2 linked regions of the Homo sapiens genome follow. The protein of the gene in region 2 purifies or fractionates together with the protein of the main gene of each other region. This does not show direct contact. Each region holds a gene or a part of one and is shown on either strand. Other genes may lie near its edges.

Region 1 (4,996 bases), on a different chromosome or scaffold from region 2:
GTCCTTAATAGAAGTGATGTCTCTTTCCATCCCCTTGTCACCTGCAGATTCAGGAGCCATCCTGAGGGATGTGGCAACATTTGGGAGGACTCGGCAGCTAGGTGATATCTCTATAATAGAAAATGACTTTGAGGTGAGAAGATACCCACTGCTTCCCTGACCTCATTCTCCCCAGCCCCTTATCTGAGGGGGAGGGTGTCCCCTGAGCCAGTCCCCCTCCCTTTCTAGGGGAGTATCTGGGAAAGAGGGCAGATTTGGAACCAGAGAAAGCTCTCTGGAAGAGGTTAGATTTGATCTGGGTCTTGCAGGATGATGGCCAGGGCCTCTCCTGCAGAGTTCATGGAATGCATGTCTGCTGTGAAGGAGTGTGTGAGGGATGGGACACAGACGTGCCAACATGGTAAAGGCTGTCTGAAAACTGGTGAAGGATGGGCCTATACCAGGGAGGCCTCCGTCCTGGGCCAAGCAGTTCTCTAACCTGGGAGTTGCTTCAGGTTGTAGGCACCATCTCTTCCTCTCCTGTCTGGACACTTCCTGTGGCTGACTGCCTTGGCAGTGGTAGTTAAGTGCTGAGATTGAGCCCCTTCCTGCCCATCCCAGCTCTCACACTCATCTCTCCTGTCAGCTCCTCCAACCCCCTTTTCATGATCAATTCCAGCCAAAAGGTCAGCCTTTTCCCCTAGACTGAGACCTGGGGTCAAGCTGGACCCGGCAGGGTTGTCCACGGACTCCTCTCTCTCTCCTTACTTGTATAGCCTAGGGTCCCAACTGGAAGACTAGATGAAGCAGGGCTGAGCCAGACCTTCCCACCAATCAAAGCTGCCAGAAGAGGGCGGGCTTTCTTATTTACCACTAGGTTCCTATCAGCTGCAAATATTGGGAAGGGGGAATGAAACCCATGAACGTTCAGATGAGAAAGCAAAATAAGAGTGGCAGTGTGCTAAGCTCCTGGGCTAGGGATCAGGACCCAGCCTTTAGCCTCCTCACAGCCCCTTGAGAGGACGGAAAGCCCTTGAGGCAGGCATGATAGGAAGCTGACTGGCTTAGGGCTTCCATACTCTTGCTTCCTCCTTTGTATCCTCGTATCATGGGCAGACTCCAAACACAGAACACTCAAGACCACAAAGAATGGTTCTTAGCCTTTGGAGGGTCAAGGATCCCTTTATGAATCTGATACAAGCTGGTTAGTCTTCTTGTCAGAAAAACACATGCATGCAAACACCCACAAAAACATGTAAACAATCTGTTGATGGTCCCTGATTTAGTCCAGCACCCTCATCTTAAAGACTTTGGGACTCAGAAGAGAGATCTTTCCAACTACTATGGGACCATTAATGGGCTTGAAACCACTTTGCTAAGTGAAAGAAGCTAGACACAAAGGATCACATATTATACGATTCCATTTATGTAAAATGTCCAGAATAGGCAAATGGGATGAGGGGTAAAGGACGCCTAAGGGATATGGAGTTTCTTTCTGCAGTGATGAAAATGTTCTGAAATTTTTTTTCGAATGATGGCTGCACAACTCTGAATATACTAAAAGCTATTTAATTGTATACTTTTAAGTGGGTGACTGTATGGTATGTACATTATATATATCAATAAGCTGTCTTAAAAAAGTGAACTCAGGGGTTGCAAATGACCACACATCTGAGCTTTAGTCCCCATTCATCAGGGGCATAACCTGTGGAGAAAAATCAGGGAATTATGCAGTAGATGGGTTAGACAGGAAAACATTCTAGGAAGAACGAGATTCTATGTATAATCTTAAGGGCAATAAAGCATCATGGAAGGTTTTAAGCAGTATATAATCAGATCTACACTTTAGAAACCCCCCAAATCACTGAATTGTACATTTCAAACAAGTGAATTTTATAGTATGTAAATTATATCTCAATAAAGCCATTAACAAAAAAATCCCTTTGGGAGCTTGAGGAGGATAAACTGGAGGGCATCAACTGGGGGAGGTTGTAGTGTAGGAGTTTGGGTGAGGGGGCCCGAGCCCATCTGTTTGGACTTGAGGGAAAGTGGCTTGGGGTTAGAGTCGGGGGAGGATCAGAATGTCTTGCCCAAGGTTAAGAAGCTGGTGGAACTTGATTTCAGAACCCAGAGCTCCCTGGCTTCAGCCCTAGTGCTCCTGCCAGCACTACAGCTGCTCCACTGACTGGTGATGGAAGCACTGTCTTCCCCGTCTAAGAGAAATGCACTTCAGAAACATGTTTCCAAAAAATGTTTCTAAGGGTTTTATTTCTAACAAGAGGAAAATAATAAAATAAAATTAAAATAGGCTTCAGTTGGAACCAAGTTTCTTGTTTTGCTTTTTTTTTTCTTTTGAACAAATTAATTACACACCAACAATCTTCTTTTATTACAACATGAACCCAGGAGGAGGAAAGGAGACAGGGGAGGACAGGGAGGGAGGACTGAGGTGGTTGTGAGGACAAGCACCAAAAGCTTTCTTCAGATCACAGGGAGCCCTGTTCAGCTCCCCAGCCAAATTCCTTTAAAATAAAAAACTGTGAGCACGGCTATGTGAAGTTTCCTCCTCCTGGGTGGAACAGTCAGGGGAAGGGAGAGGGAGAAGGGGGTAGGAAGGAAGGAAAAGAGGGGAGGAGAGTGGGGGCAGGGGTTAGTGTAGCATGGCCTGGCCAGGACCAGAACTGGGGAGAGAAGGGAGGAGAGTCCCCCAGTTTGCATATACACTGGCCTTGTCTCTGGAATGGTGATGGCCCAGCCCCAGCCACCCCCCTGCCCACCAGCCCATCCATCTATCTGCCTCAGGTGTCTGGGAATGCTGGTTAGAGGCTACCAGGGAGGGAAGACTCCAGGGGCCGGCCCCCAGGAGCTGAGGTCTGAACAATACCTTGGAGTCAGAATACAAAAGTCAAGGGACTCAGGGGTGGGCGGGTAGCAGGGATGGCCACCCCCCTACCCGCCCACCCCCCAAGAAGCAGGCTTGATGGTCAGAAAGAGGATCCTTGAGGCCGAGGGGGGTCTCTGTCAGGGTCTGTGCTAGGCTCAGCCACTGTCACAACTGTTGCTGAGGCGGCTGCTGTGGGCAGGGCAGATGCAGCCGGGGAGTCAGAGTGGAGAAAGGGGCCGAGGGGCCTGAAGTGGTCCCTTCCGCCGGTTCCAAGCCATTCTGGTTCTCCTGGGTGCTGGGGCTGCCAGTGGTGGGGATGGGTGCAGGGGGGCCCTCACCCCCAGTCTCCTCCTCCAGCTCTTCCTCCTCCTGGACCTCCTCAGCCTCTGGCCCTGAGCTCCGTACCCTCTTTGGCTCTAGCTCCTCTCGGGCTGGGTCATCGCCCTCCCCACCCCGATCCACCTTCCGCCGCCGCCGCCTCTCCAGGGCCCGGCCCCGAGCCCGACTCCCGTGACGCTCTGCCTTCTCCAGCTGTGATTACAGACAGGCAGAAAGACAGGTTGTGGGCCAGTGGTCAGGCCTGGGCTCCCTACTCGGCCTGACCTCCTGGCCCGGCCCATGACCCCTCTCCTCACCTCCAGAAGTGTGCGGATCCTCTCCAGGTCTGGGGGCTGTCCAGCCTGCAGCAGCTGCCATATGCTGTGGTTCTCATCCAGGGTCACCTCGAGCAGGTCCCCCTCCATCATGAGCTCCTCCAAGGGGGCCCGGGTTGCCTCAGGCAGTTCCAACACAGGGCCAGTCAACTGTGGCAACAGCGAGGACAGCAGCTCCAGATCTAGGAGGTTGCAGGAACAAGCGGCATTAGAGGCTGCCCTTGGTCTTATCCCCACCACTACAACAGAGCTGAGGACTACATGGGTCACTATGGTGATGTGCAGTCAACAGCCTACCCACACCACACCTAGACCTACCTCTCTTACCTGAGCCCTCCTCCGGGGCTACCTTCTCAGGACTGGTCACACTGTCTCCATTCTCCAGTAAGCCCTGGACCTGCGGAGGAGAGCAAGAATAGGTAGGGGCAACTGAAGTGAAGAACCAGGCCCTATTCCTCCTCCGCCAACCCCAAACTTGAGACCCTCCGCCTTCTGGAGGAGGAGGGAAGACACAGGCTGCCAGCAGGGAGCAGAGTCTAGGAATCTGGACAGATGCAGAATGGAGTAGGAAGGCTGGTCCAAAGAAAACTGAAAATTGGAGAACAAGGGGCAGGGCCGAGCCTAAACTGGGGTAGGGGCTAGGAGACAAGAATCTGAGGACAAGAGCTGGGCTGAGTAGCTCACCTTAGGCATATCCTTGCCACTGCCCTCTCTGAGGGGGTCAGAAGCAGGGGCTGCAGGGTAGTTAGGAGGCTCCTCAGGTCTAGGTTCAGCCTGTAGCCGTTGGCGGAGCTCAGCCAGCCGTCCCAAAAGAGCAGTCACATCTTCAGAGGCCAGAGCCTGCCTGGCGCGGCCTTGCCAGCTGATGGCCCTCTCTGTGAGGCACTGCAGGGCCTCGCCCTCGGGCAGCCGCACAGGCAGTCTCTGCAGGGCTACCAGCAGTGCCAGGATGGTCTCCAGGCGCGGGCGCCTTGAGCGCATACACAGTGGACACAGGAATTTGGTGTCCCATTCCCACCAGGCCAGCAGTGGGGATGAGGTGGGATTGGGCCTCGGAGAGCTGAGGAGGCGAGGCACTGACACACACCGCCCATGGAACCAGTCCTGACACAGGTCACACTGCAGAGCTCCCGCCCCAGCCAGCACCTGCCCACACACACAGATAGAGGTTGTAGAGGAGGCCGTGCTCGATGATGCCAGTGGACTGGGCTTGGCCGAATTGGTGCGACGCAGCTGCAGGATACCCTCCTTCTCCTTCTGTTCCCCCTCCTTGAAGGCCACGATCTGCCATACCCAGGACAGGAGCAAAGTGGGTCAGCAGCCTACCCCTTCCCTTCTCTGGGCCCCCCCTTAACACCCCCACTCCCAAACCAGGAGAACTGAGGCTCAGGGGACAAGCGGTCTGCTCATGGCCACCCAGCTCAGACACTCTATCATCACCAAGCCCTTCTCCCCATCTGTGTCGAAGCTCCTTACCACA
Region 2 (9,215 bases):
ACAAAGAACATGTGAACTTTATATAGTAGCTTGATCTTTATGTGTGGCCAAAAAATGGATTTCAAATTTCTAGTTGACCAGATGATTCAAGTTACCTACAGTACTGTTAGCCCTGAAGATTGTTTTTAAAAGGCAGGTAGTGGGTAGTGGTTGTAGTTTTTCTTAGGATAGGTCTTTCTGAAGGCAATGCATTCTACTAACACTCTAAAACTAAAATAAAATTTAAAAATGCTCATACTTCATGTAACAAGATCATCCCACAGTCCTTGAGAATAGCTATTATTTTACTCATTTAATAGGTTTCTGCCATTTACTGATTTCTGTGGGCAGGCACTATGCTGGGAAATTTACACTGATCACCTCTAGAGTCCTCATATTACATAACATTGTAGGGCAGAATTTATCATTCGTATTGTGTTATTGAGGAGCAGAAACTCAGAGAGGTTGAGCAGCTGGCCCAATGTAGTAGCACTAGCTTGTTATAGAGGAGGACTCAGATCCAGTCCTCCCTTCAGAACCCAGGTACCTCTAACTCCGGGTGGGGTTTCTGAAGCAAGCAATTGGCTGCAAAGGTTAAAGGGAGGGCTCGAACCTGATTGTCTGATTTTATGTTTAGGTCTCACTTGATCTTAGCCAAAAGGCCGAGAAGTGATTGATTTTGTGTTTAGGTCTCATATTCTCTCTCCTTTTTCTTTATAATTTCATTAAAAAATATATAATATATGCACATGGTTCAAGTAATCAAAAAGATAGAAAAAGGTATACGTTGAGAAGTTCTGCTCCCTCCCGTATCCCCACCCACCCCATCCCTCACTGCCTTAGTTTCTTATTTATCCTTCCAATGTTCCTTTATGAAAATATAAGAAGACATGAGTGTAAATTATTTACCTCCTTTTTTACACAAAATGTAGTATAATTCTCTCTCTCTCTACAGTCACACACATACACATACAGTCACACACAAACTCCCACACAAAACTATGTATCTTGCATTTTTGTACTTAGCAGTATATTCTGGAGACTTTTTCATGTCAATACATAAACAGCTACCTCATATGACCTCATGTTTTCTAGAGGTGTATAGTGTCCCATTCTGTAGATGTACCAGTCCCTATAGATGAACACACTGCCTTCAGTTCTTTTCTTTTTCTTTCTTTTTTTTTTTTTTTTTTTTTTGTGACAGGGTCTCACTTTATTGCTTAAGCTGGAGTGCGGTGGTGCGATCACAGCTTACTGCAGCCTTGACCTCCTGCTGAGGCAATCCTTCGGCCTCGGCCTCCCAAGTAGCTGGGACTACAGGTGCATACTACCATGCTGGGCTAAATTGTTTTGCGTATTTTTTGTAGAGACAAGGTTTCAACATGTTGCCCAGCCTGGCCTTGAACTCCTGAGCTCAAGTGATCCACCCTCCTCAGCCTCCCAAAGTGCTGGGATTACAGGCATCAGCCGCTGCACCCAGCCTTTCAGTTCTTCATACTACAAAAGAAGCTGCAATAAATAACTCTGGGACCTCCTTTTGTACTCAGGCAGATGTATTTCTCAAATGCATTTTCAGAAGTGGGCTTGATGGGTCAGAGGGTAAATAGATTTGATTGTATGATTTTGAGACAAATTATTGGAGTTTGTGTCATTTTACACTTCCAGAAGCAATGCATGAAAGAACTGTTTTCCTACAGTTTCACCAACAGAGTTTGTTGTCAAATTTTGGGGGTTTGCTCATCTGATAAGTGAGAACTGGCATTTCAGTAATTTTAATTTTAATTTGAGTTTCTTGTATTATGAGAGAGGCTGAACATCTTTTCCTATGTACAAGGACTAGTTTCATTTTTTCCTCTGTGAGCTGCCTGATCTTGTCCTTTGCCCATAATTACATTGGTTGTTGATCTCTTTCTTCACAATTTTTATGAACTTTATCTATTAAGGAGAGTAACCAATTGTCTGATATGCATTGCAAATACTTTTTGCTAGTTTTTTTTTTTTTTTTTTTTTTGGTTTGGCATGTGGTGATTTGTTCTTTTGTTTTTATTTTTGTTCTTTTTAATTTTTTAGGTCATGGAAATCAAAAGGTCAAATTTATCAAACTTTTACGGCTTCTGGGTTTTCAGTCATAGTTATAAAGACCACCCATTCTAAGATTACATAAGGATCCTACTTTAGGACTCTTTAACCACAAACAAACACTTGATTTTGGTGAGACTTCATCTCTAGAACATGGTTCCTTTACTGCAATATCCTTTTGGAAAAAAATGCTAATGCAGATAATCAAGTAATGTGATACATTAAGAATTTCATAGGTATGCTACCAGGAAACTTTTGTTTTGGGGTCTCTAATCCATACCTTGGGAGCATGACACACAGAGGTGAAAACCCCATGTGACATCCATGGCCATTTCTTTTCTAGACAAGCGACTCTGATACAACCAGCCCCACCGGACAGCAGCCGAGCGATGCGTTTCCGGAGGACAGCAGCAAAGTACCCAGGGAAAAGCCAGGAGACTGGAAAATGCAATCTCGTAAAAGGACTCAAACACTCCCTAACCGGAAATGTTTCTTGACATCAGCTTTTCAGGGTGCCAACAGCAGCAAAATGGAGATCTTTAAAAATGAATTCTGGTCGCCTTCCTCAGAGGCTAAGGCAGGGGAAGGGCACAGGAGAACGATGTCTCAAGACTTGCGCCAACTTTCTGACTCCCAACGGACTTCCACCTACGATAACGTCCCTTCCCTGCCAGGGTCCCCTGGGGAGGAAGCCAGTGCACTCTCTTCCCAAGCCTGTGACTCCAAGGGAGATACTCTTGCCAGTCCAAACTCTGAAACTGGGCCTGGAAAAAAGAACTCTGGAGAAGAGGAAATTGATTCTTTGCAGAGGATGGTCCAAGAGCTACGAAAGGAAATAGAAACACAGAAGCAAATGTATGAGGAACAGATTAAAAAGTAAGTCAGACAGAGGGGCACTGAGAGGCACTTGGCTTCCATCTTTAGAGACAAGAGGGATTGTTCCCATCCGCCAGAGAAGTCACATCATAAAGCTTCAATTTGGGGAAGACAGTAATCTATAGCAGGCCTAGAAAGAAAAGAGTAAAGGGAACAATGAGATAGCTAAATTGGTGAACACTCTAAACTTTAAACTAGATTTAGGAAATGTAAATATCTAGCTTAAGTAGTTTAATCAATAATTTCCAAACAGTGGTTCAAGAATCAACATGCTTTAATTAATTTAAAGGAAATTAATTTTTTTTATGTTAAGGTCATTCATTGATTCTGCAAATATTCCTCGAGCCCCTCCTCTGTGCCAGGCACATTCCAGTTGTTAGGGTATAGCACTGAACAAAAGAGACAAAAGTCCCTGCACTTACAGAACTTCTAGTGGGGACAGATGGACAATACAAATATATAATAAAATATATGTTATGTCAGCTGATGGCAAGTGCTGTGGAGAAAAATAAAGTGGGTCAGGAGGTTGGAAAGTTCAAGGAATGGGTTCCAATGTAAAATAGGGGGGTCAGGGAAGGCCTCCGTGAGAAGGCAGCAGGTAAGTAAAGGCCTGAAGGAGATGAGGAGCAAGTCAGGTGTGTAGATGGGAGATGACTATGGCCAGTGCCGAGCCATGAGAAAAGAGCAGTCCCCCATGGTCCCACCCAGGAAGAGTGGAAGCTGCCTGGGGCCAGGGAGAGTGATTAGAGGAGATGAGGGTGGAGAAGTACAGGAGGCCAGGACGCAGTAGGGTTTTGTCAGCCACTGCAAAGCCTGAGTAAGAAGCTTCGGGGTGGTTTCAACCTGGTTTATGCTTCATTGGCTCACTGGCTTCCCATTGAGCACCGGCTGCAGGGGGCAAACAGAAGCGGGAGGCCAGTTAGGCAGCTATTGCCTCTGTCACATGCAAATTCCCAAGATCTGTGCACACAATTTGTTCTCTTGGGTAGATAGAGTATTTTCTTGAAATATTTTTCACACTACTGATTGGCTGGCAAATTTGTTTTCAGGAGAGAAAGCCTTGATCCAGCTGTTCCCATATCAGCACTAGTCATGAGGCAGTGAAATGTGAATTCGTGGGCTCTTAGATTTATGGCTACGTCTTAGTCCATGCAGACTCAGGTATCTGAAGGGAAGACTACTTTGAACCCTCATTCATTGTTCCACACAGAGAGCTGCCATCCAGAAGCAAAATGTAGCTTGTTTGTCTAAGAACCTGAAACCAATCATTTGTAGAATTAAAGACTTCTGTGACATCTTGGCAGTGATCAAAGCAGTCCCATAGAAGGCACACACTGCCCTCACATATGAGTATCTTCAACAGGGTAGAAAAAGAACTGGCTGCCACAGATGTGTCAGAGTCCTCTGAATCCATCAGTTGGGGAAGCCTCCCATCCCAGGCTCCTGAGCCCACACAGATTCTACCTTCCACTGGAACCCATGGTCAGGATCTAGCACAGTGCCTCACTTGGAATTTCTTCCAGAACCAGAGGGGTACAGAGAACTTGGAGAAGAAAAGTAGATTTGTAATGAGAGGGTCAGAAGGAATGGCCGGGCGTGGTGGCTCACGCTTGTAATCCCAGCACTTTGGGAGGCCAAGGTGGGTGAATCACGAGGTCAGGAGATCGAGACCATCCTGGCTAACACGGTGAAACCATGTCTCTCCTAAAAATATAAAACATTAGCCAGGCATGATGGTGGGTGCCTGTAGTCCCAGCTACTCAGGAGGCTGAGGCAGGAGAATGGTGTGAACCTGGGAGGCGGAGCTTGCAGTGAGCCGAGATCATGCCACTGCACTCCAGCCTGGGCAACAGAGCGAGACTCCGTCTCAAAAAAAACAAAAGGAAAAAAAAAAGATGGAATGAGATCAATTTAGCTTTAAGAAGAGATAGGTGGGGGTAAGCAAAGTTCTGAAGATGGATTGTTACCCACAGAATAGGCCAAGGCCCTTGAAGATAGAACCCAAGTTTTGGGCTCACATGGGAGCTCAAGTCTCCCTTGTGCAAATGGGCAGGCCATTTGGGGAGAAGGGAGGCACACTCTACAGAATGAAATTCTGAAACAAATTTCCAGTCACACAATCGGCATGTGTACACTCATTCCTAAGGGTTAATTCAGCACAGCCTGGCAGGGGGCCACCTGGCACTACATTAGGATTTGGGCCAGTAACGATTAAAATCCTAGCAATTCAGGAATCCCACAGATTTTTCACCTGGCATGGGATTCAGAAGTGAGGGTGAGACTGCCAGGACCACAGCTCCCCAAAGGGCAGTTCCCTCTGTTTCTCCAAATCTTGGTCCCCAGGAGATCCTTAATAAGAAAGGGTGCTGATCTATGCTCTCCATTGACACAGGATGAGGAGGCACTCATGAGCACAGAGGTGTGAGAAATTTGAAATATGGATGGGGCTTCCAGGACTGATACAAGGTGCTGTGGGAGTGAATATATAGATCTGTTAGAACTGGTCCCTCCTTTCAAAGACTTTGTTATCCGGTTGAAGATACAAAACATTAAACGACATGAGAAAAAACACAATAGATGTCACAAGATGGTGTTAAATGACAAATGAGGGGGCTGGGTGTGGTGGTTCATGCCTGTAATCTCAGCACTTTGGGAGGCCAAGGCAGGCGGATCACGAGGTCAGGAGATCAAGACCATCCTGGCTAACATGGTGAAACCCTGTCTCTACTAAAAATACAAAAAAAAAGAAAAAATTAGCTGGGTATGGTGGCGGGCATCTGCAGTCCCAGCTACTAGGGAGGCTGAGGAAGGAGAATGGTGTGAACCTGGGAGGCGGAGCTTGCAGTGAGCCGAGATCGCGTCACTGCACTCCATCCAGCCTGGGCAACAGAGCGAGACTCCATCCAAAAAAAAATGACAAATGAGGGGCTCAGAAGTACTGTGGGGATTCAGGTTTTCTGGGACATCTTCATGTGGGAAGAGGGACATAGCTGAGAGGTTGGATAAGGGTCTTGTGATTTGAAAGGAAAATGAGCAGCAGGTTGTGAGCAAGGGGGAAGGAAGAGTCTAGAATGAATGCCACATTCTTTCATTCTTTTCTTTCCTTCCTTGTAGCCTTGAGAAGGAAAATTATGACGTTTGGGCTAAAGTGGTGAGGCTCAATGAAGAACTGGAGAAGGAAAAGAAGAAGTCTGCAGCCCTAGAGATCAGCCTCCGCAACATGGAGCGCTCCCGGGAGGATGTTGAGAAGAGGAACAAGGCCTTGGAAGAAGAAGTCAAGGAATTTGTCAAATCCATGAAGGAACCCAAGACCGAGGCTTAAGGGTCCCAGGAGTACTGCAGGGACAGCCCCAGAGAGGCCCAACTCTGGCCCCTTTCTCAGTGCTATCTGATGACGGGGAAACAAAATTATTCTCTGAGAGGGAAAGGACATTTGAGGGAAACATCAAATTTCCCCATAAATAAATGAATGGAGTTTGCAGGAAGGTGAGGGTGAGCAGAGATGTGTGTGGACATCTCTGACCATCCATCGCTGTATTCAAATGGATTGTTTTATTCCATTCTGGTCTCAGGCATGACCACGTCCAGTGAAGACATTTGAGGCAGCACATCTCAGGACCCAGGCAATAGACTGGCCCCAACTCAGGCTGGACTAAGGTGTGATTAATTCTTTGTTTTTTGTGTGGAACAGCTCACCTTGTCAGACAGCCTCAGGGCATCTCTGAGACACAGGGGCAGAAAATGACATTCATCTTTTGAGTCCTCATCCATGGAGTGCTGTGTTTGGGGGGCTGCATCTGCTGAAGCGAGAACCCCATTCTGCCACCCCACCAGGATGCCCATTCTCCAGGACTTCTCCAACTTACTATTAGACTAAACCAGAACAAGCAACAAACTGTATTTATGCAAGCAAAATTGATGAGAAAATTATATTCAAATAAAGCAAAAATTAAAAAAAAAAGGCTATTGCTAATCCATACGGCACCTTTGTGAGAATTAGCAAAAGACACTCCTTCCTTGGGGCAGGTGGCTTGCTGAGCAGGGCATGGGCTGAATTTCAGTCCTGACTTGCCTTTCAGGGACAGGTGTTTCTATACTTGCGGAGCCCCCATTTCTTCTGTATTTCACACAATTGCTGTGGGAATTACATGAGAAGAGGTAATCTAGTCCCTACTTGCTTTTTAATTGTGTATGGAGGGCCTGGGAACAAACGCTTCCTACTATGATAGGATTTGTTGTGGTTTTAGACAGTAATTTTCATGATAATAGTTTCTTTTTTCCTGTTTCACCAAAATGCAAGTGATTTTACCCTTAAAGGGACAACAGGCACTAGATGATAGGTGGGAGAGGGGCTTTCCCAGTGGACAGCTGATTCTTCCCCTTCTATGTCAAGCCAGCTTGGCAGAGGCCCTGGTCAGGCCCCGGACCTCTAGGTAGGTTGGTTGAGTCTTTTTTTGTTGTTATCATTCTAATTGGATGGTCTCCAAGCTCTTTTGACTGGGTAACTCATCAACAGAAAATGTTTGAGCATACACCCCCCAATATATTTATTTATTTATAAATTATATATATGTACTACTATAGTACTCCATAATGTATATTATAAAATTCACAGAACAGTAACTGAATAATGATGAGATAAAAACAAAGATCAATAGATGTTCCCAAGTGTGCTTTCAGCTCCGGAGACCCCTGACCCAGTTGCCCAGGAGGTATTACCTGTACCAAATTTATATCTTTCATCCCACTGCTCCCATAAATGTGCTTGAACTCTTGAAGCCCCGTGGCTTAATCAGTGGTTTGGAATCTATGGTTGCTGCAGTGAGAGTTTAGCCTTCCCAGCACATGGGCCTCCTCTGTCATTCCTTTTTCTCTCTGTCTTCTTCACTCTGGTTAGTCCTCCCTTCCTATGGCCAGGACTTATTACCCACAGAGTGAAAGTACAGACAGTAGCATCAGCATTTCTTGGTCCTGCTACTCAGGCCCTGCTCTACCAACGCCAGCCCCTTTGAGGACCAGATTGATGGAGAAGGAGGGCGACTCCTACGGCATTCCTATCTAGGCCTGCTTGCAGAAGATTGAGGGGAAACTCATCTGGAACATTCGTAAGAAAAGCAATAAAATATTGGGATTCCTGAGTTTTAGGTGTTTTTAAATAACAGGATAGCAAACATGGAAACACTTATTGACCACCTGACTTACGTTGGCGAGTGCCTGCATTTCTGCCAGGCACATATCCTTGTGTTCTCCCACGGATTCCTCACACTGACTCTTTGGGGGCTAAAACAGAGTTGAATATGGAAGTGGCTGCTGTCACAATTTCCAAAGAAAACATTTGTCTGAAGATGCAAAGAGGAGGCTCTCAAGTCTGTTTTGAGGCCCGTGTCATTGGCCCTTACTGGGTCCGGGAGCCAGAGCTCGTGCTGAGTGGAAGTGCCACGTTTGAATCCCAACTACCTCCTGGTCTGGCAGTGTCTCTCATTCTACTTTTTTCCACCAGTATTATGAGACAACAGAGCAGCTGTTGGCCTCAGAAGCACTAGACAGCCTAGCCTGCAAGTGTCAATCCCTCTTCACAATCAAGAGAAGAGTTTGGCTCGCTTAAGTTGCTACTATTTGCTCCTGTGCCACCTTGCATACAAGGAGAAGACAAGAAACAGGGTTTTTTTTTAGGACCCTGGGACCTTATGAGTGCAAGGGTCACACAAACCCCTTCATCCTGCTGAAAAAGGCTGGGAGGAGGGAGCCCCTGAGGGCCAGAAAAGAAGATCTGGAGTCTGATGGCACTGTTTTAATGCCCTCAAAAGGCATGCATGTGATTGCATGACAGGGTAGCTCCAGGTCTCACCTGGACCAAAGGACCAGGTTCTAGAAGGCAATATCTGGAGACTGACCTGTGTCAAGGGGTGCTGTTGGACTCTGCAGCTCCTACCTGTACTTTCAGAGCCCTTCCATGGAAAGGACTCCATCAACTTTGCCTTTTTCCCAGCCACACCCTCACCTTTATGTTAGCCGCTCTCCTCTTTGCTCATGAGCTGAGAACCCAGAAAGGTCATCAATGTGCATTTGAAAACCCCTTGCCCTCTTCCCTCCCAAACTCCTTTTCTGTCACAGCCTCAAGCATGTCCCTTATCAGGGTACTCTTATCTTAAGTTTGGGGCAGATATGATGCTTTTCCAGTAAGTCTGTACACTGGATAGGACAATTTGTACTAGGGTATTGGCTGGGATGATCCCCTTCCAGTGGATTCTGTTCAGAGCCTGCAGTCTGGAGAGACCATG

The links.
Region 1: the proteins of ARHGAP25 (region 2) and KDM5C purify together in Homo sapiens (affinity purification with mass spectrometry; 3 studies listed by BioGRID and IntAct, with this or other methods). This does not show direct contact.

Annotation. Positions count from the first base shown.
Region 1 is NC_000023.11:53,189,939-53,194,934, forward strand, and holds the end of KDM5C (lysine-specific demethylase 5C), read right to left. Parts: coding exon 4,993-4,996; intron 4,801-4,992; coding exon 4,201-4,800; intron 3,914-4,200; coding exon 3,835-3,913; intron 3,699-3,834; coding exon 3,499-3,698; intron 3,395-3,498; coding exon 3,029-3,394; 3' UTR 2,900-3,028; coding exon of another isoform or gene 2,806-2,899; 3' UTR 2,220-2,805; downstream 1-2,219. UniProt on the Homo sapiens protein: Histone demethylase that specifically demethylates 'Lys-4' of histone H3, thereby playing a central role in histone code. Does not demethylate histone H3 'Lys-9', H3 'Lys-27', H3 'Lys-36', H3 'Lys-79' or H4 'Lys-20'.
Region 2 is NC_000002.12:68,819,939-68,829,153, forward strand, and holds the end of ARHGAP25 (rho GTPase-activating protein 25), read left to right. Parts: intron 1-2,401; coding exon 2,402-2,934; exon of another isoform or gene 2,935-3,064; intron 3,065-6,048; coding exon 6,049-6,256; 3' UTR 6,257-6,895; downstream 6,896-9,215. UniProt on the Homo sapiens protein: GTPase activator for the Rho-type GTPases by converting them to an inactive GDP-bound state.